Linked DNA regions of Homo sapiens: region 1 is linked to region 2. Evidence: fine-mapped expression QTL. A gene starts in region 2. The other region holds a variant in brackets. All regions are shown on one strand. Distances are from middle to middle. Region 1 has its middle 69 kb from the start of LINC02225. Region 2 holds the start of SETD9 (SET domain containing 9).

Region 1 (2,919 bases), 920 kb before region 2:
GATGAATATAGAAAATGTGTAAACATGTAAATCTAATTTAAAAAAAAATTGAGGCATCTAAAAAGAAGTCTGGGAACAAAAACCAGGCCTTCCAAGCACCATGTCTTTTCATCTGCCACACTTCCACCACAGCTCCACTTAGGACGGCTTTGCCTTTCTTCCTTTCAGGTCCAACTTGTCTTCTCTGAAGCCTTTTCAACTATCTCAGCCTTCAGTGATTTGTCCCTCCTCCAAATTGATGCAACTTTTATTATCTCTTCTCTGCTCCCCTAAATTAAGAATTTAAGCTTATTACAGACACAAGGAGAACTAAATAATAGACCTTTTTTTCTTCCTGCTTCCATTTTCCAGTACACTTGGCAAGATATTTCCATTCCCACCTTCTCTATACCAGAAAAATCCTACTCATTCCTCATGGCCAGATCAGCCCCATTGCTTTTTCTCTTTTACACCTGTCTGGACTCTCCTCACTTCTACCCTACACTAATTATTTCCTCCTCCATGGCCCTCATGTAAATTTTTCTCATTAAACAAAAGTAGCAATTATATTATTGTGAAATTGTTGAGATTAAAACTCAAGTGGGCCACTCACACTGCTTGACATCCTTTTGGGTTGCTCAATCCAATTCACAATAACTAGTTACACCTCCTCTCCCTTCAAACCTCTGAAACAGTTTTGTTCCTTCTGGTATTTAGCATATGAACTTGCCTGTTAGTTTAAAGGGTTCTCAGCCTTTAGAATATAAATCTGTCTCCAGGATTTCATTAAAATATTTTTAACTCAAACTTACACTTGTATGAATTCCATAACAAAACTTCTATAAGTATACCTTAAATGTGTTTTATGGATGGCTGTACTGTATTAGTCCGTTTTCCCGCTGCTGATAAAGACATACTTGAAACTGGGAAATTTACAAATAAAAGGTTTTATTGAACTTACAGTTCCACATGGCTGGGGAGGCCTCACAGTCAAGGCAGAAGGCAAGGAGGAACAAGTCACATCTTACATGGATGGCAGCAGGCAAAAAATAAAAAGTGAGAGAGCGAGAGAGCTTGTACAGAGAAACTCCCCCTTACAATACTATCAGATCTCATGAGAACAGCTATCATGAGAACAGCACAGGAAAGATCTGCTGCCATGATTCAATTAACTCCCACCAGGTCCCTCCACAACATGTGGGAATTCAAGATGAGAATTGGTTGGGGATACAGCCAAACCGTGTCATGTAACCTCATCCAGGATTATTCATTAAATCATAGTTAAGAATTTCCCAGAATATGGGAAACAGAGAGTATGTGATTATCTGATGAGAATCCCAAATATTAAATATTTCCCTAATATTAAATACTCAAAACAATCCACAGTGAACCATTGCTGCCCTCCTGCCTTCTTGTTGCAGTGGAAGACATGCCTCTTCTTCTATCTAAAACCATCATTTGTATGTATCCCATCATTTATCACTTTTCTATGAGCTATAAATATTTAACATCCCTTCTTTATTGCCTTTTATATAATCAAATTCTCAGGTAGATTCTGTCATCTGGCTCTTAACCATGCATGTGCCTCTTCCACTCAAAAAACAAAAACAGCCTCATTCAACTCTTC[A/G]TTCTCCTATTCCTATCCTCAGCTCCTTAGACCTTTCACAGCTAAATTTCTGCAAGCTTGCCTATACCTGCTGTCACCATTCTCTCACTTCCCACAAATTTAATCCACTTCAATCTAACAATCTAAAGAGGCATAGACATTTCTCTATACCTATTTGCCATCAACTTTCACCATGTATCCTCTTTCTGGGGTGGCAAGATTTTGCATATAAAAATACAGAATGCCCAGTTAAATTTAAATTTCAGATAAGCAAATATTTTTGTCAGATTTCTAGATGTAATATGGGACTCACATGCTAAGGGTATTTGTTGTTTTCTGAAATTAAAATATAACTAGCCATCTTGTATTTTATCCAGCAACCCTACTGCTACCACACAGTGTCCAGCTATCCTGGATTTCTTCTGGTTCTTTCTATTTGAAATGTTTTTTATTGCCACGGCGCTTTTACTGATGCTGGTTGTATTAGTTTCCTAGGGCTGTTGTAACAAAGAACCACAGACTAGGTGGCTTAACATGATACAAATGTGTCGTCTCACAGAATTAAAGGCTAGAAATCCAAAGTCAAGGTGATGGCAGGGCTATACTCTGGGTCTTTGGGAAAGGATCTTTCCTTGTCTCTTCTGATCTGTGGCAGCCCAGGTGTTCCTTGGCTTGTGGTAGCATAATTCCAGTCTCTGGCTCAGTCTTCATAAGGCAACCTTCCCCATCTGTGTCTTCTCCTCTACATATAAGGACACTAGTCATATTGGAATAAGGGCTCATCCTACTCCAGTATGACTTCATCTTAACTAATTACATCTGCAATGATCTTATTTCCAAGTATGATCACATGGTACTAGGGGTTAGGACTTGAATATATATTTTGGGAGGACACGAGTCAATCCACAGTACTGGTTATTTTGCTGGGAATGTGCTGTTTTCTCCTTTTTTCCTAGATGCTCCTACTCATATCTACCCACTGTTTATGATTTTAACATAATTAGCACCTTTCTCACTTTCTTGACCAAATCCTATCCCACACTTTTGTGCTTATATAGAACCATATACTTCTTATCGCGCGTTTGGATTCCATGTGATGATTCTACATGCACTTGCTTGATAATCTGATGAGTGTCTATGCTCCCCACTGGACTGTATACTCCATGAAGGGAGGAACCAGGCCTGTTTGGTTCATTAATACATCCTTACCTCTGAGCAGAGTGCCTTACCTTTAGTAGGTGCTTCATAAAGACTTGTCTAGAAATCAGTGGATTAATTATTTAACAGTGTGAGTGCTGTGAGGAAAAAACATAATTTTTATATCCTCAAAGCCT
Region 2 (2,839 bases):
TTCAGCTCTTTCCCGTACTACACCCAACAGCCAAGCTGAATGTCATCACAATGAGAATGAATGACCTCACATTCAATGGCTTTTTAAAAATGGCCTTGTAGTTTCAAAGACAAATTCAACATCGTATACTTTGTGACACTCCCTCCAGGACGACTAACGTCTTCAATGACTGCACCTCTTATTTCCATAATCATTATCTTTTTGTACTAACTGCATTATTTTTACTTGAACAAAAAGGTTGTAATTCCCGCCTCACGGTTCCGAGTCATGATACAACTGATCTCCTGTTTCCCTAGCATGCAACCTTCCGGAAACCGCTTTGTTTCCCTATTTGTCGGACACTGACTTCAGGGAGGCCCGGTCGGCCTCTTTGGTGAGCACGGTGTTGAGCTGATCACTGGTGCGCCCTTAATAACGCCGGCGGGACTCACCCCAATCCGAAACCCACCATCCCGACGTGCTTTTGAGTGGCGTTCTGCCCGTTCTTAACGCGCGAGCTACTGCACGCTATTCTCACAGCCGGGATGGGCTTCTTTAACCACGTGAAGTACTTGTATGAACTATGAAAATAAACCCTGGCTTGGCTTTTCTGAGGAAGTTCAAGCACCTAATTAACCCCTGGTGGAGAAAAAGCCACGCACTCTCACGCGGTAAGGGCAGTCTTTTTAAAAAGTTTCCATTTTTGCCCAGATACAAGCTCCCCAGTCAGTGCCGAACGCAACAGGGAAGAACAGGCGACACATCCGGCTGGCGAGCTCGGCCTCGCGGGCCCGGCAGCGCAGCGGACACTGGGAAAGAGGCCATAGGCCCCGCCCACCTGAAGCCACCGCCCACTTCAGGCTTCCAGCGGGCCTCGGACTCCACCAACCTCGGCCCCGCCCGCCTCTGGCCCGCGTTCCTTAAACCCCTCCGAGGCCTCAGTCCCCGCCCACCCGGCCCGCCCACCTCAGTCCCTGCCCACCCGGGCCCGCCCATCTCAGGCCGGCAGTCAGCCTCAGGCTCTCCGCTTTGCGTCCCGCCGCCGTGGTGGCGTCTGGGAACCGAAGGCAGGTGCCCCTCGTTCTGCCGTCCCGCCCTCTCACCTCGGGTTGTGGCTTAGGTTCAGTGCGATCCAGGGAACGAAGCGGTACTTGTAACGGCGCCATCGCTGCCACAGGCCCCGCAGCAGACGGCCAGGCATGGCTGCCCCGCGGGGCCGTGACCAGGACGGCGCGGGGAAGGCGGATCGAGGCCTCGGGCCCGCCCCGGCCCGGGAGGAGAGGGGGCCGCGCTCGGCCGCCTTCCCCTGGCTCCGCTCTCAGTGTTCCTGGCACCGCCTGACTTCTGTTGCTCTGGGGCTTCGTCCTTCCCCTTTCCTGACCTCACCTCTCTGAATGAGAGGCGCGTAGAGCTGGAAGGAGGTCCCCTTGACCACTTTTTCTTTCTCCGGTCGCTCGGGTGCTTCCGTGGGCGCACACAAGCGCTAGCCCTGGTTGCGGGCGAAGGGTCACCGGGCCTCAGGGGCGAACCCGCCCCCGAGACCGCGTCCCAGGAGCGGACCGCCTAGTTTCTCTGTCACGGCTGTCTGGCCTGCCCCTTTGTCCCGGCCGCGCTCTGTGTTCCATCCTCCGTCCACTTGAGCTCTGCCTCTTCCTCGACGTTCTCTCCCCTTCTCTCCGTGGCCCCAGAGCAGCCCGACTTCGGGAACCCGAGTTTCAGTCCTCCCCAGACAGCAGCCCTTCTTCTGCGTGAACCCGTGTTCCCAAAGTTACCAGTTTGGGCGTTTTGCGAATATTTACACGTAAAAAAACAAAGTGTCATGATTCCCTGTTTTCACTCGTTTTTCTCTTCATTGACCCAACCATTCAAAGGCAAAACTACATGGACAAATGTTTCTGAAAAACAGCTTTGTTGAGGAATGGTTGGGATACAATAAACTGCACATATTTAAAGTGAACAATTTGATAGGTTTTCGACACCACAGCCAAGATAGTAATCCAGCCCCTCCCCCAGTCCCCAAGCAACCACTGAGGTGCTTTTGTCCTTTTAATATGGTCTTCGCTTCAATTTGGAAACGTTTTGTCTAGAAGTTCTGCATCTGTGTTCGTGAGAGATATTGTTTCGTAGTTTTCTTGTAGTGTCTTAATCTGGCTTTGGTATTTAGGCTAATGTTGACTTCATAGGATGAGGTGGGAAGTAGTCCCCCATAGGTGAAATTTAAAAGGAACTTTACGACCGCTCCTCCCCAACACCCAGATGCATGCACACGCACACACATATTTAGAACAGGTTTGGACAAAGTTCAGTTTTAAGGGGGGCAAACTACAGGAATCCCTTAACCATATTCAAATCACCAAGTGTTTATTGACAGATAAATACGTTGGTATCATTTCCTCTATTCTTTGCCTGAGAGTGAGGTTGGATCCTAAACTATTGAAATTGAACGGCTCAGATCTAATAAAAACTCAGCCAAGGCCGGGCGCAGTGGCTCACGCCTGTAATCCCAGCACTTTGGGAGGCCGAGGCGGGTGGATCCCCTGAGGTCAGGAGTTCGGGACCAATCTGGCCAACATGGCGAAACCCCGTCTTTACTAAAAAAGAACAAATACAAAAATTAGCCGAGCGTTGGTGGCACGTGCCTGTAGTCCCAGCTACTCAGGAGGCTGAGGCAGAAGAATCGCTTGAACCTGAGAGACGGAGGTTGCAGGGAGCCGAGATCCGCCACTGCACTCCAGCCTGGGTGACAGAGTGAGATCCCGTCTCAAAAAAAAAAAAAATTCAGCCAATCGCCAGTAGCTGCGGGACTAATTTGTTCTATTCTGAAAGAAATAAAGAGAAAGAGTATCTACCAATGTCTCTA

The links. PIP is the estimated chance that this variant, and not a neighbour inherited with it, causes the effect. A credible set is the group of variants that fine-mapping cannot tell apart.
Region 1: its variant is the best candidate, but not a certain one, in a credible set for the expression of SETD9 in NK cells (Gilchrist 2021, PIP 0.89).

Annotation. Positions count from the first base shown.
Region 1 is chr5:57,829,022-57,831,940 of GRCh38, reverse strand. No RefSeq gene overlaps it. Among named protein-coding and RNA genes, the nearest start is that of LINC02225, 69 kb to the left of the region's middle. The variant A/G (reference allele first, on the strand shown) is at 1,607.
Region 2 is chr5:56,907,987-56,910,825 of GRCh38, reverse strand. SETD9 (SET domain containing 9) reads right to left here and starts at 1,230. Exons shown (of 6, transcript NM_153706.4): 1 at 1,083-1,230. The coding sequence starts at 1,180. RefSeq lists enhancers at 1-569, 665-714, 1,505-1,594 and silencers at 755-964, 1,145-1,354.